Homo sapiens: one gene and its partners. The protein of the gene in region 6 purifies or fractionates together with the protein of the main gene of each other region. This does not show direct contact. Each region holds a gene or a part of one and is shown on either strand. Other genes may lie near its edges. The genes, in order: CKAP4, SCAMP1, STX3, FGFR1, NDFIP1, TNFRSF10B and RIPK1.

Region 1 (3,500 bases), on a different chromosome or scaffold from region 6:
ATCCAGGTTAATTCTCTGTGCTTCTCCCTGCCCCTCACTTAGTCCCTTCTTTTTGCTTCTCACCCCTTCTCCATCACAGCTATGTATATAGATCACTTTCTTCTTTGGGGCTCAGTTTTCCCACCCACACAATGAGAAGAGGGCTCCATCCAGACTTTTAAGAATCCTCATGGCTCTAAAATAATTGAAATAGTGACTTCTCTGTTTTTTATTTCATATTTTATATTTCGTAGAGACAGGGTCTCACTCTGTCACCAGGCTGGAGCGTAGTGGTGTGATCATAGCTCACTGCAGCCTTGAACTCCTGGCCTCAAGTGTTCCTCTTGCCTCAGCCTCACAAGTAGCTGGGACCACAGGCATGCACAAGCACGTCCAGCTATTTATTTATTTTTAAAATTTTTGGTAGAGACAGGGTCTTGCTGTGTTGCTCAGGCTGGTCTCAAACTCCTGGGCTCAAGCAGTCCTCCTGCCTTGGCCTCTCAAAGTGCTGGGATTACAGATGTGAGCCACTGCGCCTGGCTGACCACTTTTCTTTTAATTTAGTAGTGTAATCAAACTATAATTTAATGTGTCATATTTATGGTGCACTTATTACGTGCCAGGCACTATGCAAAGCATTTGAAAATGCATCATCTGCTGACTCTCACAACAACCCCAAGAGGTAAGTACTATTATCAGCCCTCTTTGACAGATGAGAAAAGTGAGAGGCTAAGTAACTGAGCGGTGATATAGCTAGTTAGTGGCTGGGCTAGGATCCAAACTGTTGTCTAACTCCTGGAACACTATTAACCACTCCACTATTTAGCCTAGTACATAGTAGGTGCCCAATAAATGTTCCATTGACTTGAGACTCAGAACATGGCCAGAACAGTGTTAGATTTGCCATAGAATGTGGCCACTCTGTCTGTATCTTTGGGGTGGCCAGTAAATAAATTATTTTGCATTGAGGAACCAGTTGTGTTTGGTTCTCTGACAGCCTAAGTTTGAACCCTTTTATAACTCTTGGTTACTTGTTGGGGGGTGGAGTTTGGTTCATAGCAGGGAAGTATACTTACAGTATTCATAATTACTGTTCACTATGGGTCAGCCATGCTATTAAATGCTTTATAGCCATGATTTCTGTTCTCCCAGCCACCCTCTGAGGCAGGTATCATTTAGTAGTACCATTTTGCAGATGGGGCAGCTGAGGACTGGCTGTGTAACTCATTCAAGGTCACACACAGACCATAAGTTGTGTAGCTGGAGTTGGGTGCCCACCTGTCTCTTGTTCTCCAGATGTTCTTGTTATTGGAGAATGGCTCAAATCTTCTGAATGACTGTAGCACAGGCAGAGAGGCAGGCCTGTCCTTACCCAGAGGATTCAGCAGGCACAAGTGGGTCCTGGGCTTCAGAAAGTGTTGGCAGTTCATCTCTAGGCCCTCTGAAGAGCCTGTGTTGCCCTGGCAGATCCAGCGTGATATAAAGCAATGGTAGGAGTAGGCTTAGGCCTGGTAGGGACAGTTTAATGAGACTAGGACCTATTTGTGGAAGAGTGAGCTCCCTGGTCATATTTCTTTGTTTTCTTGTCTAGATTCTCTGGCTAAGGAGTCAGGGCTTCAGGAGTTGGCAGTCTCTCTTCCAGGTACTCAGGGCACTTTGAAGTCAGTGCCCCTGCCTGAGCATATCACATACTGGTTGAGAGCTCAGGTTCTGAAATCAAGCATTTTGGGATTTTAACGTTTGAGCCTACCACTTACCAGTTTCCTCATTAGTAAAATGGAGATCACTGGGAGATACCAACTCATGAGATTATGGTGAGGGTGTAATGAGATGATGTGTCTGAAGTCCTTTGTATAGTTATTGGTCCATCACAAGTGTCCGGTTGAATGTCAACCACTGCTAACACCCAGTCCCCCCACCCTAGGGTGTAACCTTGAGGGCAAGGATCCTAGCCATTATTTCATCTCTGGCATCTTGCCTGTTGCCTACCACTTAGTGGGCATCCCACATTTGTTGGGGGAACAGATATTTCCAATGCATATTGATGATAATGAATTATTTGCACATAAAGATGCACAACTCATAGTCCCCTCAGTAGGGGAACACCATGTTCTTTTTTATAGTGTTGGGGGTTGGATATAATTTCTGTTCTAGTCTCCTTCCTAACCATTTGTGAAGAGCCAGCGCAGGTCAGGGCTGACAGGGATCAGAGGAGACATGGACCAGCTCATCAGGCTTTGCTTGAATTCCCTCATTATGTGATTCCATCAAAAAACACTGGATGAAAGCCTGCCATGTTGAAGGTACTGTGCTCACCTGCTCACACCTCTGTTCTGAGTGCTATGCTTAGAACAGGCAGACAGTGTGATTTAATAACGTAGTTTCAGAGATGGGCTCTCTCCAGTACCTTCACAGAGTGTCCTTTAAGACTCAGGTTGTATTTGGTTGGGCAGGGAAATTGTCTAGTATTCTGGAGCCCCTGAGAACCTTATTCTAATCTGCCTTAAAACAGACTGATGGAGCTAGACAGCACTTTAGAGACCTATTTGCTATTGGATGAGGAGCCTGGGACTCGGAAAGTGAATGTGACTCTTCATGCTTACAGAGCTGGCTACTGGTGGGGCTGGCACGAGAGCTGAGGGATGTTGTTCACATCCCACTTCAGTTTATCCTCCTGCCTTTTGGCATGGGTTGAGGATATTTCTAGGAATCTGCAGACTTACCAGGTGCTTCAGAAGAAATGGGAAATAATCACGATGATAATAGCTGCCATGTATTGAGTGTTCACTATGTGCTGGGCACAGTTTAAGTACTTGATATATTATTAATTCACTTAATCTTCATACAGACAATCATATGAGTCCGGTACTGTTTTCCCATCCTTCAGCTGAGGAAACCAAGGTACAGATAGGCTAAATAACTTCCCCAAGATCACACTGCTGGAAAGTGTTAAAGTTATGATTTGAACCTAGGCAGTCTGGCTCCAGAGACCGTGCTGTTTTATTTTTTAACTTTTTATCATGGCAGTGTTCAAGTGTAAACAAAAAAAGAATATAATGAACCTCAGTTTCAAGAATTACTGATGTTTTGCCATTCTTTTTTCATTCCATCGGCACTCTTCCCCTCTGCCACTTTTTTTTTTTGGCTGGAGTTAGAAGTCTGACTGTGAACCACTCTCTTGCCCTATGCGTGCCCAGCCTGGTCTCCCTTCTTCTCCAGATGCTGTTGGTGTTGCATGGCCATAGCACAGGCAGAGAGGTTGTCCTGTCCTGAAGCCAGAAAATTTACTAGGCAGAAGTGGGTCCAGGGCTTCAGAAAATGTTGGCAGTTCAGCTTTAGGGCCTCTAAAGAGCCTGTGTTGTCCTGGCAGATCCAGGGGATAGTGAATTAGGAATTAGTTTTAAAATGAGGCCAGGCGCGGTGGCTCACGCCTGTAATCCCAGCACTTTGGGAGGCCGAGGCGGGCGGATCACGAGGTCAGGAGATCGAGACCATCCCGGCTAAAACGGTGAAACCCCGTC
Region 2 (3,500 bases), on a different chromosome or scaffold from region 6:
CATTAGGGAATTTGGAGAGAAAATGTATCAGACAATGAAGAAGTAAATTATTACTTAGAAATGGCATAAAGAGAAGAAATGATGAGAGGAGGAGTGAAGGGAAGAAATGATGGGAGAAGGGAAAGGAGAAAAGAACCTTTGGATACATTGAAATATGGGAGATTGGTTGCCAAGGAACGGGGAGAGCTTCTCCTGTAGAGATGGGTTGGAGAGGAATGAAAGGAACATAGTTACTCCTTGCATGATCTGAGTTATTGCTGTTATTTTCTTCGTTATCTAAGCATGGCTCACAAGGCTTTTTCTGTTTTTTGTTAGTTTGTTTTGTTTTGTTTTTTTTGGACATCTAACCTCTGCCTAATGACCTCCATCACATTACCAATATGTTATCGATCTGTGATGATGCTGGCTGGTGGGAGTGAGGATATCTTTATGAAACTTTTCAAAAAAGTGACCTGAGACTAGGGAATTTGGATTTTAAACCTTCTGTTACTTATGTAGCCAAAATAAATGACTAAAAGCCAGCTTTGTGCCTTTTATTTCCTGAAGTCACTTGGTATCTTTTTTTTTTCCCCCATTTTGGCAGTTGAAATAAAAATGCTTGGTGGAACATTTTTACTTGTGGCATTATTGATCCCTAGGCTGAGTTTTTAGCTGCATCTCAGTCTTTTAGAGTATATACAAATATATTAATAATCTGGTTTTCACTGTGCAGAGTAGAAATGAGAGGAATACTTTTTTTTTTTTTGAGATGGAGTTTTGCTCTTGTTGCCCAGGCTGGAGTGCAATGGCTTGATCTCGGTTCACTGCAACCTCTGCCTCCTGGGTTCAAGCAGTTCTCCTGCCTCAGCCTCTCAGGTAGCTGGGATTACAGGCATGCACCACCATGCCTGGCTAATTTTGTATTTTTAGTAGAGACAGGGTTTAACCATTTTGGTCAGGCTGGTCTCGAACTGCTGACCTCAGGTGATCCGCCCACCTTGGCCTCTGCCCACCTCGGCCTCTGCCCACCTCGGCCTCCCAAAGTGCTGGGATTACAGACATGAGCCACTGCGCCCAGCCTCGAGAGGAATACTTTTTATGGGGAAAGTTGAATTAAAGTATTTATAATCATTAATATACCTTCCTGTTATGTATCTTTGGCATTTCCTTATATTGATATATTTACAGGACTTTGTTCTCCGTAAGGTAAACTCATTGTAAAAATCTCAAGGAAAATTATATAGTGAAGTTTCAAATGTATGTGTTTTTAAAAGTTAAGTTTATTAGGTATCAGGATTAAACATGAAGTTGTCATTTTGTTATTTATGTAGTTTACAAAGATTGTAACTTGGGGCTGGGCATGGTGGCTCATGCCTGTAATCCCAGCACTTTGGGAGGCAGAGGCTGGCGGATCACATGAGGTCAGGCGTTTGAGAACAGCCTGGCCAACATGGTGAAACTCCATCTCTACTAAAAATACAAAAAATTAGCTGAGTATCGTGGCATGTTTCTGTAATCCCAGCTCGAGGCAGGAGAATCGCCTGAACCCGGGAGGCAGAGGTTGCAGTGAGCCAAGATCGTGCTACTGCACTCCAGCCTGGGCGACAGAGTGAGATCCTGCCTCAAAAAAAAAGAAGAAAAACAACAAAAAAACCCCAACTTGGTCCTGAATTTTGTACTTCCACAAATCACTAGGCATTATGCAAATACATCAAAATATTAGGTAATTATTAACAAGGCAGCATTATTGTTGAATGTTGTTGAGTAACTATTAGAAACAGACTGAGAAAGAGTATTTGCATAATGCTTAGTGATCTTGGCTTCCCCACTTAAAAAGCTGTGCGGTTCTGAGCACATGCAGTAAAACTCAGAGCCTCAGTTTGTTAGGTTTAAATGAGGGATATTTGTAGAGTTGAAAGAAGGATTAGAGATAATGTATGCAAGTTTTGCATTATAGATGGTGAATAAATGGTAGCTGTAATTAATTTTTAACTTTTTTTGGACCCTCTTAGATTTTATCATTTACATTTTATGATCTATAAGTGAACTGTGATTTCTTATAGATTATATTTTACAGAGCCATTATTTGTAGCTTTGAAGACAATTTTCAAAGTAGTACTTTCTCCCACTTTTTAATTATGATGTATTTAATGCATACCAAAGAATACCTGAAACACAAGTTAAAAGGCATAATAATGAGTCATCTATGAACTGTGAGCCCACTGGTCAATTTAAGAAATGGAACATTATCAATACCGCTGAAGCACTGGTATGTTTCCATTTCCCTGCTCCATAGGTAACCATTAGGTTGAATTTTGATAATTTTTGCTCATTCTCTAGCATAATTTTAGTTTTTCATATATATTTGTACTCCCAAACCTTTTTTTAGCTTGTAGAGAATATTTTTAAAAGTATTTTAATATTTATAAAAGTGATACATCTTTGTATACAGGTTATTTTATATGCAGTTTTAAGTAGCTGTGCAAATACTTTTTTGGTAAAATAAAGACCTGTTTTAATCCTTTTCTACCAACAGTTCTTGCCGCTGACTTATGTGGGCATTTACCTTTATATTTTAAATAATGATCATATACTGCCATTCCTTGATTTTGTTTAAGTAGCTTTATTAGGATATATTGTATATACTATAAAATTCACCCACTCTTATGGGAAAATTCAATGATTTATTTTATTTTATTTTACTTTAAGTTTTGGGATACATGCGCAGAATGTGCAGGTCTATTACATAGGTGTACGTGTGCCATGGTGGTTTGCTGCACCTATCAACCCATCATCCAGGTTTTAAGCCCCGCGTGCATTAGGTATTTGTCCTAATGCCCTCCCTCCCCTTGCCCCCCACCCCTGACAGGCCCTGGTTTGTGATGTTCCCCTTCCTGTGTCCATGTCTTCTCATTGTTCAACTCCCACTTAGAGTGAGAACATGAGGTGTTTGGTTTTCTGTTCCTGTGTTAGTCTGCTGAGAATGATGGCTTCCAGATTCCTCCATGTCCCTGCAAAGGACATGAACTCATTTCTTTTTTATGGCTACATAGTATTCCATGGTGTATATGTGCCACATTTTCTTTATCCAATCTATCACTGATGGGCATTTGGGTTGGTTCCAAGTCTTTGCTGTTGTGAATAGTGCTGCAATAAACATATGTTTGCATGTGTCTTTATGGCAGAATGATTTATATTCCTTTGGGTACATACCCAGTAATGAGATTGCTGATCAAATGGTATTTCTGGTTCTAGATCCTTGAGGAATTGCCACACTGTCTTCCACAATGGTTGAACTAATTTACACTCCCAACAGTGTAAAAGCGTTCCTATTTCTCCATGGCCTTGCCAGCATCTGTTTCCTGATCTTTTAATAATCACCATTTTAACTGGCATGAGATTGTATCTCATTGTGGTTTTAATTTGCGTTTCTCTAATGACCAGTGATGATGAGCTTTTTTTCATGTTGGCTGCATAAATGTCTTTTGAAAAGTGTCTGTTCATATCTTTTGCCCAATTCA
Region 3 (3,500 bases), on a different chromosome or scaffold from region 6:
TTCAATGAAGCTACTGTCATAGATTCAGTTCTTCCAGAGCCTAGAAGGTTTACTTAGTTCTGTTGCTAGAGCCTGCATTCTTGCCCAGTGTATTTGGTGCATGCATGCTATTGATCAGAAGAGAAAGCATTATTGCTCAGCTCAATTTACCATTTCTTCCCCCCAAGTATATTGCAATAACTATTTTAACTGGAGGAGTCATTAGTAGCAGATTCCAGTAATAACAGTGATAGTGCACCTGCCATTGTGCTAGGCACTTTATGTGTCTTCTCATTTAATCTTCACATTAGTATTGTGAGGGAGGGACTGTTATTCTGTTTTACAGATGAGAGAACAGGTACATTAAGAGGGGTTAAGTGGCTTTTTCAAAGTCACACCCAGTAAGTGCCAGGGCAAGGATTCAAGCCTAAGTCTCATGGTGACCAGAACCCATGCTGTTAACTGTTATGCCAAAACCTGGTCATCGTAAAGGCTGTGGAATGCACGTCCTGTGGCTCATCTGGGAGCTGACCTTTTGAGGTGACACCTACCTGTTACATCTCCGTGGGCTGGATGTGTGGGAATGAGTGAGGAAGTTTCACTGAATAGCATGTTTCTTGGAGGCGGAGATAGGTTGCAAGTATAACCTTCCTCTCCTCTTTAGGCATGGAGAAGCATATTGAAGAAGATGAGGTCAGGTCATCGGCAGACCTTCGGATTCGGAAATCCCAGGTAAGACTTTTCCTGGTCTCATGATTAGCTAGTCCAATCTCTTATTGTTTTCCCTTAACTGTGGAGGGATTTTTTTTTTTTAATACAATCCTTATTTTGAAACTCAATTTGAAGACCTGGTAAAGGAGAACTCTCCAGGTTGAAATAGGGGTCAGGGCCAGAGTCCAGCCCTTTTGGCTCCTCTCCTGTACTCTCCTTCTCTAAGGAGGCCCCTGAAGAGCTTTTCAGGCTTCCTAGAGCACAGCTTAGGATTTAGCGTGCCTTCTTGTTTTACAGGAGAGGAAATTAATGTCTTCTAACAATTGTTAGTCATTGGTTGTCCAGTTTGGAGCTAGGCACTTTAGGGGTCATCAAAGATAGGATCCTTGTCCTTAAAGAACTGGCATGCCATTGAAGCGGCATGGAAAGCTATTACCTAAGACCCAGCAGGAGGATGCGACCCAGCAGGAGGATGCGATAAGAAGACACATGCATGGTGCTCTCAGCATCAAAAGATCTCAGGAAGAATGGGGGGTAGCCAGAGGAGGCTGGGCCAGAGTGCCAACATGAGCAGCCTCAGGAAGTAGTTTCCCCTCTCTGAGAGGCACAGGGGCAGGAGTGAGGCACGCACATATGTGTGTGTTGGCAGCAGTGGTTGGTAGTGGTGGTGGGTAGACGTAAGGGGCAGACGTGAAGACAATAGGCTTTCTGTAGAAAAAAGTTTGCTGTGGGATAGTGGACACATAATTTTTAGTAGATAATGTAGTGCCACATTCTAGAGGTCTTTGAGGACCAGTCTGGGGAATTTGGATCTGATGTTATAACTTACAGGCATTTGCTTCAGGCGGCAGTATATTAGGAGGATTATTATGGTAGCCATTTGAAAGCCGTTTACAAGTGGGAAAGAAGCAGGAAACTGGAAGGTCCCTAGTTAGGTTTTTGCAAGGGTTTTGGTCTAAATTTGTATGGTGGTAGTGGGTTTGGAAAAAGTATATATATTGGCGATTTTCCAAAGGAGAAACCAGTAAGTAGGGCTTGATGCTGAGAGGTGAGCAAGGAATAAAAATTATTAGGAAGGTTTTAGCTTAGGCATGCAGGGCTGTTGAGATAATGCATCTACTTATAAGCAAGAAGAGTTGGGGAGATGAGTTTAGCGTAAGAACTCAAGGATCTTTGGTAAGTATGACATGTGGGAAGGGAATCTGACAGTTTTAGAATGCAAGCCAAGTGTTGTGCCAGAAAAATGCTACTAGTCCATGTGGATGTAGGGCTCAGAGATTTAGAGATGACCTCTGGCCTCGCAATTACCACGTGAGGTCAGCAGTAAACCGGTTTCAGTAAACTGGTGCTGAAACCATGCTCTGGAAAGGGCAGTGGACTCTCCCAGTGGCACAAAGCTAGGAAACAAAAAACTTGGTTTGACACCTGGTTTTTTGATTCCAAGTCCAGTGCTATTGTAGATGGCTATGTGGGGGTGGGGAGGGGTTCTATAACAGTTACAGAACCACTGGGGCCTGACTGCATTTTACATCATCCCACAGCACTCTGTCCTTTCTCGGAAGTTTGTGGAGGTGATGACCAAATACAATGAAGCTCAAGTGGACTTCCGAGAACGCAGCAAAGGGCGAATCCAGCGGCAGCTCGAAATTAGTATGTACTTGAGGTTTGGCGTGTGCCCTCCACCTTTCCTGCCACCTGGTTGTCCATCCCAAGTTTTGAGGCCCTGGTGGAGCAAGCAGGAAGCACATTTTGTGCCTAAGTCTAGGGCAGCTCCTGCACCACTGGCACATCCCGAATGCTGTGCTGTAGGCTGAAAGGTGACACCGTGTTTATCAGGCCCAAGTAATTTTATTGTATGGGGTCCAGCATTGTCTCCTATATAGAGGGGAAATGCTTGCCAAACAGTTGCTCTCTTGTGGACTCATTGTATCATTTTGCTGTCTGTTTGACAGCAAAGCACATTTAAGAAATAAAAAGTGTGGTGTAAGTTGCTGGGAGGATAAAAGTATGGTGTAAGTTGCTGGGAGGATTAGAGAAATAAATAAAGCCATACCCTTTAGGAATGTAGTAATGTGGAAGGCAGGGCCCCGTGGAGTGGAAGGTGCTTTGGATGAGAGGAATGGTATGAACATAATCAAGAAAGAGCAAGTGTGTTTAGGAGTGGCAGGTTGTCTAGGGTCTGGAGAAAGGGTGTGTCTGGAGTAGCATAAGGTTAGGATGGATTGAGGGAGGGCTTGCCCATGAACTAGCATGTTATGAGGGCCTTGGACACCATAGTGTAGTGAATGGGGCAAGGAAATGTTCTGAGCTGGGAAGCAATGTAATGAGATAAGTGCTTTAGGAAGGTAACTGCTGATAGTGTTAAGGATGGCTTGGATTAGGGCAGAAATAAGATGAGTCAGGAGGCAATTGGGGGAGTGTTGTAAAGGCCACGGTCTTTATAGGGAAGTCACGTTCCTAATTTTCAGGGTCCTTATCAGATGGTGTTTCACCGTGATCTTATATTTGACGCTCTACTTCTTTTGTTACAAAGCTGGCAAAAAGACAACCGATGAGGAGCTGGAGGAGATGTTGGAGAGTGGCAACCCGGCCATCTTCACTTCTGGGGTGAGTGCCCTGTGTGCTCGGATAGCACATCCCTCTCGTGAGCAGGGAGGCCACTGCGGAGCTCATGCAGTCCAGCAGGTGGAGGGGGAGCTGCAGGTGCAGGGAGTTCAGGGAGGCAAGGAGCTCCCCAGGAGCGTGCATGAGGGCTGTGGCAGGGGCAGCCTTTCTTGCAGGGGTAGCTAACAGTCTGTGTGTGGCCTGTT
Region 4 (3,500 bases), about 15 Mb from region 6:
AAAGGGTGTAAGCATTTTTTTTTTTTTTTTAGACGGAGTCTCACTCTGTCACCCAGGCTGGAGTGCAGTGGTGCCATCTTGGCTCACTGCAAGCTCCACCTCCCAGGTTCATGCCATTCTCCTGCCTCAGCCTCCCGAGTACCTGGGATGTGCAGCCACCATTCCCAGCTAATTTTTGTATTTTTAGTAGAGACGGGGTTTCCCCATGTTGGCCAGGCTGGTCTTGAACTCATGACCTCAAGTGATCTGTCCGCCTGGGCCTCCCAAAGAGCTGGGATTACAGGCTTGAGCCACCGCACCCAGCCAGAAATATTTTAAATTAATTCACCATGCACTCACTACATGCAAGACACCATGCTTTAAATGCTGCAAGATAGCGTTCCTGCCCATAAAAATTTTGCAGTCTGATAGGAGGCAAATGTCCATGAGCAGCTACCGTAAAAAGTAGACTGTGATCAGTGCTTTGGTAGGCAGAGAGGAAAGGGTGAGCACAGTTCTGACCAGAGACTGGACTGGAGGAGATGGTTTTTGAAATGAGCTGTCAAGGACAGTGGGGGCTGGATTCTTAGTGTAATAGGAGAGGTGCACAGTTGGGAACATTCTTGGTGTATTTGGGAGTGTTTGCAGAAGGCACATCTGTCCGGATCACGAATGATCTTGAACGTCACAGTGGAGACTTCTGGAGTCTTTACACCCCATCTGCCAGCTTGCAGAGTGTGAACGGGCTGGTAGGGGGGCAATCCACGCCTTGTCCTAGCCAACCCTGCAGCCTGGGGCCCTGTGCCACCAGGCTCTGATATGGAGGGCAGGTGCCACGGGGTGCCGACATTGTCATGGGGCCTGCATTTTCCTCTGGACCCTCAATGTATCCCTTTGGCATTTCCCCTCAGGTCCGTTATGCCACCTGGAGCATCATAATGGACTCTGTGGTGCCCTCTGACAAGGGCAACTACACCTGCATTGTGGAGAATGAGTACGGCAGCATCAACCACACATACCAGCTGGATGTCGTGGGTAAGAGGGCAGAGGCAGCAGGAGGAATGAGTTTAGTGGGAAGAGCCAGGCTTGGAGAACACAGCCGGGGTGTCCAGGTTTCTTAGGGGCAGAGTCAGGATAGCGATTGGCACTTCTTGGCTTTGTCACCTTGAGCAGGTCACTTCTCCCTTTTGAGCCTCACTTTTCTTATCTGTAAAATAGAGTTAAGATCAGACAGTAACACGGTCAAAGCTGGTTGTCACTGTGAAATTGAAGGTGCTGTTCAGAGTCTGTCCTGAAGGAGGCGTTGTTGGAGAGGTGTTAAATGTAGCGTAATAGGAGCTGTCGCTTAATGCTAGCAAGATGCCAGGCTCCTTAAATACCTGCCCTGTAATGCTCATGGCACACCTGCAAGGTGGGCAGTATTAGTCTAGCCCTGCACAGGAGCACAGGCGCATAGGCTCAGAGAGGTCAGACACCTTGCTAATGCAGAACTGCACACCTGTGCCAACTTCAGGGCATCACAGGAGACTCTGGGAAGAACATTGAGCCTCTTGGAGCTATTACCGCAACCTTTTCCTTCTAGGAGTTCTGAAACTCACTCCCTAGAGATCATTGGGTACAGAATCTCTCAGCCAGTGTTCTTCTTGATTATGATGATATGGTCTAAGAAGGAGATTGTGGCCAGGAGCAGTGGCTTATGAGCTCCAGGTGGCATGATGGGATTACTCACGCCTGTGATCCCATCACTTTAGGAGGCCAAGGCTGGAGGATTGCTTGAGGCCAGGAGTGTGAGACCAGCCTGGGCAACACAGTGAGACCCTGTCTCTATAAAAAAATTTAAAAATTAGCCTAGTGCAGTGTCATGTACTTGTAGTACCAGCTGAGTTAACTGAGGCTACTGAGGTGGGAAGATCACTTGAGCCCAGGAATTCGAAGCTGCAGTGAGCTATGATGACACCCTTGTGCTCCAGCATGGGTGACAGAGTGAGACCCTGCCTTTAAAAAAAAAAAAGGTAAAAAGGAGATTCTGATCCAAGAGGTTGGGGTAAGATCTGAGATTCCGCGTTTCTAACAAGCTCCTAGGGGATGCTGGTAGCACTGCTCGTGGACCACACTTTGAATAGCAGGAGTCAAAGTGACTCTGGTTTTTTAAGGAGGAGCAGGTTGTGCTGAGGTCTGGGGGTGCAACTGAATTAGAAGGTTCTCCATTAAAGCATGAGCGACTTACTGTGACTGTAAATATGATGACTGCCTTGGGGAGGAGGATCCTGATGGCTTAGGGCCTGAAGAGAGGGTGTCCCTTTCCCCAGCTCTGTTTTGAGAGGCTTGGGCTCAGCAGAAGTGCTGGGAGGTTTACAACCCATCACTGGGAAAGCCAAGTGGGGCGCAGGTGAGCCCACCCCTCTTTAGCCATGGCAAGGTCCCCATGACAAGTGCCTCCTCTCCCATCTTCCACAGAGCGGTCCCCTCACCGGCCCATCCTGCAAGCAGGGTTGCCCGCCAACAAAACAGTGGCCCTGGGTAGCAACGTGGAGTTCATGTGTAAGGTGTACAGTGACCCGCAGCCGCACATCCAGTGGCTAAAGCACATCGAGGTGAATGGGAGCAAGATTGGCCCAGACAACCTGCCTTATGTCCAGATCTTGAAGGTAATCATGGCACCAGTCTTCGTGGGCCAGTCTACTGGGAAGGAGACCACTGTCTCGGGGGCTCAAGTTCCTGTGGGCAGGCTCAGTTGCCCCCGAATGGGATCATTCCTCACGCTTCAGGCACACACACTCCATCTCAGTAGGGATCTAGCCACATCCCCCAGGACTAGTAACAGAGGTCACAAAGTGGAGGTGAGCTGGGAACAGAGGGCTGCAGGGATGGGTGGTGCTGGTCTGTAATAAGCTTTGAGAGCAACGTCACTGGGGCTTTGGGGTCAGCTACACAAGGAAGGCATTTGGACCCCTGCCTTTTCATTGCCCGAAACCAGAGCCTTTCCACCAAGCGTTTCCCAGTCTTAGCCCTGTGTCCTGAGTTACGTACGATCTTTCTGGCAAATGGGGTGCATGATAAGAGCATCTCTTACGAAGAGTTGGAAAAACAAATGCCATATATAAATTCTAAGCCATATGAGGACGAGGAGTAATGGCATTTTCTTCCTTTTTCCTCTCACTCCCAGACATTCATTGTCCCTGAATGCTCCATTAATCCAGGGAAGGTAATTGCCTAAATCTCCAGTGGATCTCGCAACAGGAAGGAACCAGAAGCTGGGAAAGTTGTTTACCTCTTTGTCCCAGAGTTAGACCTCATCCTCCCCTAGCTTAGCTGTCTCAGAGATATACTGGCCCTCCCTTCTCTTCTCTTTGCTGCTGGTGCTAAAACTGCTCTGTAGGTCATTGGCCACTGTCTCCACTCACAACCCCTGCTCCAGTCCTGGAGGGAGTGGGTTAAACACAAATAGAACATTCCATTTGAAGCAGTGATTCTTTTTTTTTTTTTTTTTTTTTAATCAAATGCTTTGGACTTTTGAAGTC
Region 5 (3,500 bases), on a different chromosome or scaffold from region 6:
TCTGTCTTTTTTATTATAGCCATCCTAGTAAGCATGAAGTGGTATTGAGTCTTGGTTTTGATTTGCGTTTTCCTGCTGACTTAATGATGTTGAGCATTTTGTGTCTACTGGCCTTTTGTATATCTTCTTTGGAGAAATGTCTGTTCAAATCATTTGCCCATTTTATAATTGGGTTGCCTTTTTATTGTTTAGTCTCTCTTATCTTGTCAGAATTATTTAAAATATCTTCCCCTAATTAATAACAATTAGATAGAGAATTTTTCTTGAATGTAAATAATTTGGTGATGTTAGAATAACAGAGTTTATATTTACAATATATAAAGTAAATGTACAGGCCACACAAACTTAATGATTATTTCTGAACAGCAGTAAAATAGCATACTCAGCTGTTTACCAAAAGAAATGTGCTTGTTTACTTTTTGTAATTATACTGCCTTGTTTTGGTAGGATTTAGGGACTATGCAGAAGTAGTGGGTTGGTAATGAGAGCTTTAAAAATTGCATTTTAAGGTAAAAGTTTTAGCAATTAACTCTAAGATAGAAGTAGTAAATAACATTCAAAACTAGAGTTCAAGCATTGACCCAGAATTTTCTGATATTTATTTTTAATAACTTAAAGAAGGGACTTGAAACTTACAAGAATTTTCTTGCTGTTTAAATATGACCAAACCAAGAAAAAATTAAGTAGTGAAAATACTTGCAACTTTATGGACTTACTGGATACTTCAGCATTATTTTTCACGTGCTTTGTTTGTTTGTTTGTATGAATTCTGAGGTGTATGTTGATACCTTTTCTCATATATAAGGATTTATGGGTTTTGTTTAGTGTAGGGTTTTTTGTTGTTCTCTCATTCTTAGTAAATATAGATAATCCAAGAATGACTTTTAAGTGCCTTTAGGTCCTGCCATTTGCTACAGTTATAAATGTTGCCCCTTGCTTAGCCCTAATCCTAGCCCCAGCTCTGCTATTGCTTAAAAACAACTCATTTTAGAACTGCTTAGTGAGGAGGGCGGTGGTGAAGCTTTCTTGCTGATTGGGAACTCAAATAATAGTTTAAATCTGTAGGGTATAATGTCTTAAACGTGTTAAATTCAAGTTTGTTTCTATTAGAATTAGAACTATATATGATTTCTGTGTTGGAGATTCATAAAAATGTCATATTTATTTTTAATAACAATAGGACCTAGATACAGAGGAAGGTGATAAGGAGGGAAAAAAAAACGCTCTATTTTATTTTATTTATTTATTTATTTTTGAGACAGAATCTCACTTTGTCGCCCAGGCTGAAGTGCAGTGGCTTGATCTCAGCTTACTGTAACCTCCACCTCCCCGGATCAAGTGATTCTCGTGCCTAAGCCTCCCGAGTAGTTGGGACTACAGGTGCATGCCACCACACCTGGTTGATTTTTGTATTTTTAGTAGAGACGAGATTTTACCATGTTGGCCAGGCTGGTCTCAAACTCCTGACCTCAAGTGATCCGCCCACCTCAGCCTCCCAAAGTGCTGGGATTACAGGTGTGACTTGAGAACAAAACCTTAGTAGCACCTATTTGTAAATAAATGTTTTCTTAAAATTGAAGGTCATCAAGGCCAAAGGCACCATGGCAGATTGTGACATATCTGAAGTAGGAAGAGTTTTAGGGTTCTTCTGGGGAGCCATTCTAGTCTGCTCAGCACATAGAAGGGAGCAAAGGTAATCAGGAAAAGAGTAATGGCACACTCTGGGTGTGAGAAAGTGAAAGGTCATCTGAATTCTCAGGTGATTGGATTATTTATTTCTTAGCGATGGAGGCATAGGTAGTTATAGGTAGTTCTGTATTAAACTCTACTTTGTATGGCCTGTGTAGGTAATTGTATAGCTGTATTTGGAAAAAATGCCATTTAAATCATATTTCAGCCGGGTATGGTGGCTCACGCCTATAATCCCAGCGCTTTGGGAGGCTGAGGCAGGCGGATCACTTGAGGTCAGGAGTTTGGTACCAACCTGGCCAACATGGCACAACCCCATCTCTACTAAAAATACAAAAATTAGCCAGGTATGGTGGTGCATGCCTGTAATCCCAACTACTTGGGAGGCTGAGGCGGAAGAATCACTTGAACCCAGGAGGCAGAGGTTGCAGTGAGCCAAGATGGTACCACTGCACTCCAGCCTGGGTGACAGAGTGAGATTCTGTCTCAAAAAAATAAATCATATTTGAAGTTTAGTAAAATTGGTCAGAAATTATATGACAGGAAAAAAAATCCAGTGTCCAACAGCTATTTATTATCTATCACAGTCACTCAAAGGATATCCCCCCTACCCTTGCCCAACATCTCTGTGCACTGAGAGCAGAAGTTCCCAGATCTGTCCCAGTTTTCAGATCTGTCTCTCTGAGTATCCCCTACAACCCAGATTCTGTGACAGTTAAATTGGACTCGGGCTTCCACTGACCCAGTTGATGGAAGAGACTGAGCATCTTTCCAACTCTAACCCAAACGTGACAATGCCGCGTATTCTTTCAGAAAGTGTCAGGAAAGAGCCCGAAGATCCCTGAGCTCCAGGGACATGGCAGGGAGGCTGCACAGAAGGGTTCCCAGGGGTGGAAAAGGGGAATCTTAAAAATAAATTTTGGAACCAAGTAATCAATTTTATAGCACACTCTAGTTCTAGCGCACATGGTTCCTCCACTTGTTAGTGAATGCCTGACTTGTTGCCCCTGAAGTGTAAAAAGATGTATATTTAAGGATTCCATTGTTCAGCAAGTTATTATGCATGCAGATGGCAGGCACTAAGTGCTTACTCTTTTTGAAGGTGATTGCCTCTCCCCGCGATCCCCCTACATTGCAGTGTTTTGTTTTAAACAGCTTTCTTGATGGAGCCTAATCTTATCACCAGCATTATAGAAATAAGCCAGAGTGAGAAGCCTGTACAGTGAGGTCTTGGGATTATACCATAGTCATAATGGTGTTTTAAATTGTTTTTATTTTTCAATTGAAAAAAGTACACTATTCTAAAGTAGTGAATTTTAGTGGAGCAAACTCTTCACCTGGAAGTGTTTTTTTCCTTACCAAAGTGAAAATTGGTGGTTCTAAGAAGGCTGGAATTTATTTGCACTGTCATCTTTTACTATGGTGGGGGATGATCAAATTTAACATTTCCAAGTTTCCAGGAGACAGGCAGCCTATCTTATAAATATTGTCATAGAAGACCTCTTAACCTCTTTGTTCTTTGGATTTCTGTATTTCTTAGAATTGTCATGCTTCCTTTCTGAGACCTAAATTATGCAGGGGTAACGTGATTACTTTGACACCAAGCTCAGGAAATATAAAACGGGTTAAGTATAAACCAAGCTAGGTTTAAATGAAGTTCATTACTGGCTACAGTATATTAAGGGAACATATTCGAAAAGTCTGTATTTGCCTTTGTTCTTGCTGCTGACTCTTCTGCTTCTTTTGGTGACCTTCCCACAGCACAAGAGTGGTTAGGTGTGAGGAGGCTAAGAATACCTTGCCAAGAGCTT
Region 6 (3,500 bases):
AGAAAAACAGTAGAGGCCGGATGTGATGGCTCACGCCTATAATCCCAGCACTTTGCGAGGCCAAGACAGGAGGATTGCTTGAAGCCAGGAGTTTGAGACCAGCCTGGATATGGCAAAACCCTGTCTCTACAAAAAATATAAAAAGCAGCCTGGCCCGGGGGAGCACACCTGTGATCCCAGTTACTCGGGAGGCTGAGGTGGGAGGATCACTTGAGCCCCGGAGATGTAGGTTGCAGTGAGCCAAGATCACATCACTGCACTCCAGCCTGGGCAACAGAGTGAGACTCTGTCTCAAAGAAAGAAAGAAAAAGAAAAAAGAAAAACCATAGAGAAAATCCACAAAACCAACATTGATTCTTCAATACTATTAATTAAACTGACAGAATTCACTAGTGAATTCTAACAAGCTTTTAATGAAGAGCTAATACCACTACTTCTCAAACTCTTTCAAAAACTTGAAGAGAAGGGAACCTTTCTTGACTCTTTCTGTAAGGCCAGCATTGCTCTGATACCCAAGCAGATAAAGATATTACAAGAAAATAAAGCTATATCCCAGTATCCCTAACTGATGCAAAAATCTTCAACAAAATACTATCAGAGAGAATTCAACAGTACCTTAGATGGATTATACACCATGACCAAGTTGGATTTATTTCCGGAATGCAAGAATGTTTGAACAAATGAAAACTGAACAATGTAATACATTGCATTAATAGAATGAAGGGGGAAAAAGACACATGATCATCTGAGTTGATACAGGGAAAGCCTCTGATAAAATTCAAAGCCCTTTCATGATGAAAACACCCAGCAAACTAAGAATAGAAGAAAACTTCCACAACATCATAAAAGCCATGTAAGAAAACCCCACAGCTAACATCATACTCAGTGTTGAAAGACGGAAAGCTTTTCCTTTAAGATTAAGAACAACATAAGGATATCTACCCACCTTTGCCACTCAGCATAGTACTGGAAGTTCTAGCCAAAACAGGCAAGAAAAAGAAATAAGAGCATCTGGACTGTAAAGGAAAAAGTAAAATAATCTGTGTTTTCAGATGATATGATCTTACTGGTAAAAAATCCAAAAGATTTCACAAAAAATTAAACTGCCAAAAATAAAATAATATTAAATTTTTAAAATTTTGAAATTTATTGTTGTTCAGTAAAAGACAGTACAGATTGCAATCTGGGAGATTTCAAACCAAGTGGTAAGAAACTTGCCTTACAGCAGGTATAGTACAGGCTATAAAGGAGGATGTATTTTGACAATTTCATGATTGACTTATAAATTTATATTCTTTTTAAAGGCAATCAGAGCTGTTTAAGCTGATTTTTCTATAGCTGCTTGATTTAACTTCACTGAACCATATTATGTCATGATGAAGGTGTAAAACTTATATTTTGTGGGATTTTTTATGATTATAGCTAATGTTTCAGGGATATCAGGATGTCTTAAGTTTTGGCTACATGGTTATGGGTAATTGCCGTGGGGTATATCTAAACTGTGTTTTTAATTTTTATTTAGTAGTACTAAAATGAATTCATCAAAGAAGCGGAATACAAAATCAACTGGAAAAGTCAATTGCATTTCTATACACTACCAATGAACAATTCAAAAAAAGAAATTAGGAAAAAATCCATTTACAATAGTATCAAAAATAATAAAATAGGAGTAAACTCACCAAGGAGGTGGAAGACTAGTACAATGAAAACTATAAAACATTACTGAAAGTAATTAAAGAATACAAAAATAAATGGAAAGATATGCCATGATTATGAATTATAAGACTAATTATGTCAACATTTCCTAAAGTGATCTATACATTCAATGTAATCTCTATCAAAATCCCAAGGACATTTTTGCAGAAATGAAAAAATGTATCCTAAAATTCATATGGAATTTCTAGGGACCAGAATATCCAAAACAATCTTGAAAATGAATAAAAATGTAGTAGGATTCACACTTCCTGATTTTCAAAACTTCCTACAAAGCTGCAGTAATCAAAACAGGATGGTACTGACATAAAAGCAGATAAATCGATCAGTGGAATAGAATAGAGGAGCCAGAAATAAACACTCACATATATGGCCAAATTATTTTTCACAAGGATGCCAAGACTGTTGAATGGAGGAAAGGGCCGTCTTTTCAATGAAGGGGGCTAGGAGAACCGGATATCCACATTCAAAAGAATGAAGTGAACCTTAGCCTAACATTGTATTTAAAAAATAGCTAAAAACAAATAAAAGATGTAAATGTAAGTGCTAAAGCTATAGAACTCTTGAAAGAAAATATAGGATAAAAATTCTGTGACATTGGATTTGGCAATAATTTCTTGGATGTGACACCATGGACATAGGCAACAAAAGAAAAAATAAACATTTTGGACTTCTTGAAAATCAGTAACTCTTGTGAATCAAAAGATACTATTAACTGGATAAAAAGGCAAAACCCACAGAATGAGAGAAAATATTTTAAGTTATATATCTGATAAGGGCTTAATATCTAAAATATATAAAGAATTCCTACGATCTAACAAAACAAAAACAACCCAGTTAAAAATGGGCAACTGATTTTTATAAACATTTCTCCAAAGCAAATATACAAATGGTCAATAAGTATATGAAAAGATACTTTAATCACTAATCATTAGGGAACTGCTGGTCAAAACGACAGAGATACCATCCTATACCCATCAGGATGACTATTATAAAAAACACACACAGGCCGGGTGCGGTGGCTCATGCCTGTAATCCCCACACTTTGGGAGGCCAAGGCAGGCGGATCACGAGGTCAGGAGATTGAGACCATCCTGGCTAACATGGTGAGACCCCGTCTCCACTAAAAAAAAAATACAAAAAAATTAGCCCGGCGTGGTGGCAGGCGCCTGTAGTCCCAGCTACTTGGGAGGATGAGGCAGGAGAATGGCGTGAACCCAGGAGGCGGAGCTTGCAGTGAGCTGAGATGGCACCACTGCACTCCAGCCTGGGCGACAGAACGAGACTCTGTCTCAAAAAACAAAAACAACACACACACACAATAAGCATTAGCAAATTTGTAGAGAAGTTGGAACCCTCGTGCCCTGTTAATGGGAATGTAAAATGGTGCAGCCACTATGGAAAACAGTATGATAGTTCCTCAAAAGTAAAAACAGGATTAGCAGATGATCCATCATTCCCACTTCTAGGTATACGTCCAAAAGAATTGAAAGCATGGTTTCAAACAGATATTTGTACACCCACGTTTATAGCAGTATTATTCACAATAGCCAAAAAGTGGAAGAAACTCAAGTTGGACAGATCAATAGATAATGTGGTATATTCATACAATGGAGTATTACTCAGCCTTGAAAAGGAAGGAAATACTGGCACATGCTACACAATGGATGAACATTAAAGACATGCTCAGTAAAATGCCATTCATAAAAGGACAAATGAAATAGGATTCCACTTGAGGTACCTAATGTAGTCAAATTCATAAAAACCAACAGTAGAATGTTGGATGC
Region 7 (3,500 bases), on a different chromosome or scaffold from region 6:
ATCTTACCAACACTTTTTATTTACCATTTTTATATTATAGTCACTCTAAGGAGTGTGAAAGTGTACCTCATGGTGGTTTTGACTTGCATTTCCCTATGACTCATGATGTTGAGCATCTTCATGGCTTATTGGCCATTTGTATATCTTCTATGGAGAAACTGCTATTCAAGTTCTTTGCCCATTTTTGAATTGGGTTGTTTGTTTTTTGTTGTTGAGTTGTAGGATTTTTTTTTTTTATGTTCTGGATTTCATCCGTTTTCAGATATATATTGTTTGCAACTTTTTCCCCATTATTTTATTTTATTTATTTATTTTTTTTTTGGAGACAGAATCTTGCTCTGTCGCCACCCAGACTGGAGTGCAGTGGCAGAATGTTGGTTCACTGCAACCTCTGCCTCCCAGGTTCAAGAGATAACTCCTGCCTCAGCCTCCCGAGTAGCTAGGACTACAGGCACACACCATCATGCCTGGTTAGTTTTTGTATTTTTAGTAGAGACAAGGTTTCACCATGTTGGCCTGGCAGGTCTCGAACTCCTGACCTCATGGGATCCACCTGCCTTGGCCTCCCAAAGTATTTTTTCCTTATTCTGTAGGTTATCTTTTTACTCTTTTCATAGTATCCTTTGATGCACAGAAGCTTTTAATTCTGATGTATTATTTTTACTCTTTACTTTTGTTTGTGCTTTTGTGTCATAACCAAGAAATCGCTGCCAAGTCCAATGTCATGAAGCTTTTTCCCTGTGTTTTCTTCTAAGAATTTTTGTGGCACTAGCCCTTAAATTAAGTCTTTGATCCATTGTGAGTTAATTTTTATATGGTATGAAATAAGGGTCCAACTTCATTATTTCATATGTGTATATTCAGTTTTCCCCCATCGAATGCTCTTGGCAACCTTGTCAAAAATCAATTGGCCATTTATAGGAGGGTTTATTCCTAGGCTTTCCATTCTGCCCCACTGGCATATGTGCCTGTCTTTATGCCAGTCCTACGCTGTTTTGAATACTGTAGCTTTGTAGTAAGTTTTGAAATCAGGAAGTGTGAGTCCTACAACCTTGTTCTTTTTAAAGATCATTTTGGCTATTTGGGAAAAACATTAATTTTAAAAAATTACTACTTGTAAGATCTGTGTGAAATTTCTACCTTCTGAAAATATGAATTCTTCTCGTTAAAATTTTCTGGGACTCTATTTCCTGCTGTTCACTAAAGTGTGTATTTATGCTCTTAATTATAGAAAGAGTATTCAAACGAAAATGCAGTTGTGAAGAGAATGCAGTCTCTTCAACTTGATTGTGTGGCAGTACCTTCAAGCCGGTCAAATTCAGGTAAATTACACTATGGTCAAAATCTATTCATTTATTTGTTTGGTTACTCATTCACTCCACTCTCTAAAAGACTATTCAGGACCATATGGGAAACAGAAGAAACTATAAAAGTGAACACCTGCCTTACAGGAATTTATAATAATATTCGAGAGTCAAGTTACATGTATTTGAAATATGAAGTAACAGTGTGCTCACCAGTCATAGAGTGTTCTGAACAAAAGGCCTAATATATCTGATGGGGAGAAGTGACAGTTCAGAAGAAGGAAGGGGACATATGTGAGAGCAAAGTCCCTGAGGAGCTCGGAGTGACTTACAGCCAGGGTACAAGCAGAGAGGCTGGTCTCAGGTCAAGTAGGGATACTTTTTTCACTGTAACAAAAGGGATGGCAGAGTATAGGATACTGAAGCCGCTTAGCTACCTGATCTGTGGCTAATTACTTAACCTCTTCTAAACTTCACTCATCAAATCATAATTGCTCCTCCTCTCATAGGGCTCTTCAAGAATGAAAGAATTCATGGGACATGCTTAGGACAGAGCTGCTGCAGATCTTTTTTTTTTGGAGACAGAGTCTGTCACCCCGGCTGGAGTGCAGTAGTGTGATCTTGGCTCACTACAACCTCCGCCTTTCAGGTTCAAGCGATTCTTCTGCCTCAGCCTCCCAAGCAGCAGGGATTACAGGCATGCACCACCATGCCCGGCTAATTTTTGTATTTTCAGTAGAGATGGGGTTTCGCCATGTTGGCCAGGCTGGTCTCGAACTCCTGACCTCAGGTGATCCGTCCGCCTCAGCCTCCCAACGTGCTAGGATTACAGGCGTGAGCCACCGCACCCAGCCACAGATCTTATTTTCCACCTGAATTGCTCCAAGGAGACAACCACCTTCTCTGCTCCAAACCAAGTCCCTTTTTTCCTTGATCATCCCTGCAACAGCCGCTTTTCTCTTGCTTGCTATAATTTTCCTAGTACTCTCTTACTGCCAGCGAGGAGCTCCTATTATTATTTGTAAAGCTTGTGGGAAGAGGACCATCTCCTAAATGCTTTGGACTGGTCTCGTACTTGTTTTCTGTGTGTTACTTTGAGATACAGATTCATGACGGCGCTCAGATTTTATTTTACTTTTTAATGTTTCATGACACCCATTCTAATGTTGATCATTTCTTCTCAGCCACAGAACAGCCTGGTTCACTGCACAGTTCCCAGGGACTTGGGATGGGTCCTGTGGAGGAGTCCTGGTTTGCTCCTTCCCTGGAGCACCCACAAGAAGAGAATGAGCCCAGCCTGCAGAGTAAACTCCAAGACGAAGCCAACTACCATCTTTATGGCAGCCGCATGGACAGGCAGACGAAACAGCAGCCCAGACAGAATGTGGCTTACAACAGAGAGGAGGAAAGGAGACGCAGGGTCTCCCATGACCCTTTTGCACAGCAAAGACCTTACGAGAATTTTCAGAATACAGAGGGAAAAGGCACTGCTTATTCCAGTGCAGCCAGTCATGGTAATGCAGTGCACCAGCCCTCAGGGCTCACCAGCCAACCTCAAGTACTGTATCAGAACAATGGATTATATAGCTCACATGGCTTTGGAACAAGACCACTGGATCCAGGAACAGCAGGTCCCAGAGTTTGGTACAGGCCAATTCCAAGTCATATGCCTAGTCTGCATAATATCCCAGTGCCTGAGACCAACTATCTAGGAAATACACCCACCATGCCATTCAGCTCCTTGCCACCAACAGGTAAATGGGTCTTCGATAGTCACAAGCTTGTCTTTTTTTATTTTTCAGAAAATACAGCAACCAAGCAGCTCTATTATAGATTGTGGGTTATAATGGGGACAGAGGGCATCATCAGCTGCCAGATGCAAATTGCCCCTGTGGAATGGACCCTGCCAAACCACTTGGTCTGGGAGTATTTCATCTGGGGCTAGGATTCATCACAGATGCCCGCAAGCATCGGGTTACAGGTCCTTGTGACTGGCAGGCATCTTTGACTCTAACCTGGAGTGCATAGTAGTCCTATTTCACCCAATCTCTGATAAATGGGAAGTTATCTGCTTATTTGCTTTTACCTTGCTTGCTACTTTTTGAAGGTAAGAAATCAGTCTTGGATATTTTTGTTTCTGACCTTATATAGCTCAAAGACTACCATTAGTGATGAAAAATTTTCTTTTAACTCCCA

The links.
Region 1: the proteins of TNFRSF10B (region 6) and CKAP4 purify together in Homo sapiens (affinity purification with mass spectrometry; 2 studies listed by BioGRID and IntAct, with this or other methods). This does not show direct contact.
Region 2: the proteins of TNFRSF10B (region 6) and SCAMP1 purify together in Homo sapiens (affinity purification with mass spectrometry; 3 studies listed by BioGRID and IntAct, with this or other methods). This does not show direct contact.
Region 3: the proteins of TNFRSF10B (region 6) and STX3 purify together in Homo sapiens (affinity purification with mass spectrometry; 2 studies listed by BioGRID and IntAct, with this or other methods). This does not show direct contact.
Region 4: the proteins of TNFRSF10B (region 6) and FGFR1 purify together in Homo sapiens (affinity purification with mass spectrometry; 3 studies listed by BioGRID and IntAct, with this or other methods). This does not show direct contact.
Region 5: the proteins of TNFRSF10B (region 6) and NDFIP1 purify together in Homo sapiens (affinity purification with mass spectrometry; 3 studies listed by BioGRID and IntAct, with this or other methods). This does not show direct contact.
Region 7: the proteins of TNFRSF10B (region 6) and RIPK1 purify together in Homo sapiens (affinity purification with western blotting, with the first as the bait; 3 studies listed by BioGRID). This does not show direct contact.

What each region holds. Positions count from the first base shown.
Region 1 is NC_000012.12:106,241,521-106,245,020, reverse strand, and holds part of CKAP4 (cytoskeleton-associated protein 4), read left to right. Parts: intron 1-3,500. UniProt on the Homo sapiens protein: Mediates the anchoring of the endoplasmic reticulum to microtubules. High-affinity epithelial cell surface receptor for the FZD8-related low molecular weight sialoglycopeptide APF/antiproliferative factor.
Region 2 is NC_000005.10:78,423,117-78,426,616, forward strand, and holds part of SCAMP1 (secretory carrier-associated membrane protein 1), read left to right. Parts: intron 1-3,500. UniProt on the Homo sapiens protein: Functions in post-Golgi recycling pathways. Acts as a recycling carrier to the cell surface.
Region 3 is NC_000011.10:59,789,876-59,793,375, forward strand, and holds part of STX3 (syntaxin-3), read left to right. Parts: intron 1-643; coding exon 644-711; intron 712-2,231; coding exon 2,232-2,340; intron 2,341-3,223; coding exon 3,224-3,297; intron 3,298-3,500. UniProt on the Homo sapiens protein: Potentially involved in docking of synaptic vesicles at presynaptic active zones. Apical receptor involved in membrane fusion of apical vesicles.
Region 4 is NC_000008.11:38,423,636-38,427,135, reverse strand, and holds part of FGFR1 (fibroblast growth factor receptor 1 isoform 1 precursor), read left to right. Parts: intron 1-890; coding exon 891-1,014; intron 1,015-2,436; coding exon 2,437-2,627; intron 2,628-3,500. UniProt on the Homo sapiens protein: Tyrosine-protein kinase that acts as a cell-surface receptor for fibroblast growth factors and plays an essential role in the regulation of embryonic development, cell proliferation, differentiation and migration.
Region 5 is NC_000005.10:142,125,779-142,129,278, forward strand, and holds part of NDFIP1 (NEDD4 family-interacting protein 1), read left to right. Parts: intron 1-3,500. UniProt on the Homo sapiens protein: Activates HECT domain-containing E3 ubiquitin-protein ligases, including NEDD4 and ITCH, and consequently modulates the stability of their targets. As a result, controls many cellular processes.
Region 6 is NC_000008.11:23,059,032-23,062,531, reverse strand, and holds part of TNFRSF10B (tumor necrosis factor receptor superfamily member 10B isoform 1 precursor), read left to right. Parts: intron 1-3,500. UniProt on the Homo sapiens protein: Receptor for the cytotoxic ligand TNFSF10/TRAIL. The adapter molecule FADD recruits caspase-8 to the activated receptor.
Region 7 is NC_000006.12:3,102,994-3,106,493, forward strand, and holds part of RIPK1 (receptor-interacting serine/threonine-protein kinase 1), read left to right. Parts: intron 1-1,231; coding exon 1,232-1,322; intron 1,323-2,428; exon of another isoform or gene 2,429-2,488; coding exon 2,489-3,058; exon of another isoform or gene 3,059-3,500. UniProt on the Homo sapiens protein: Serine-threonine kinase which is a key regulator of TNF-mediated apoptosis, necroptosis and inflammatory pathways.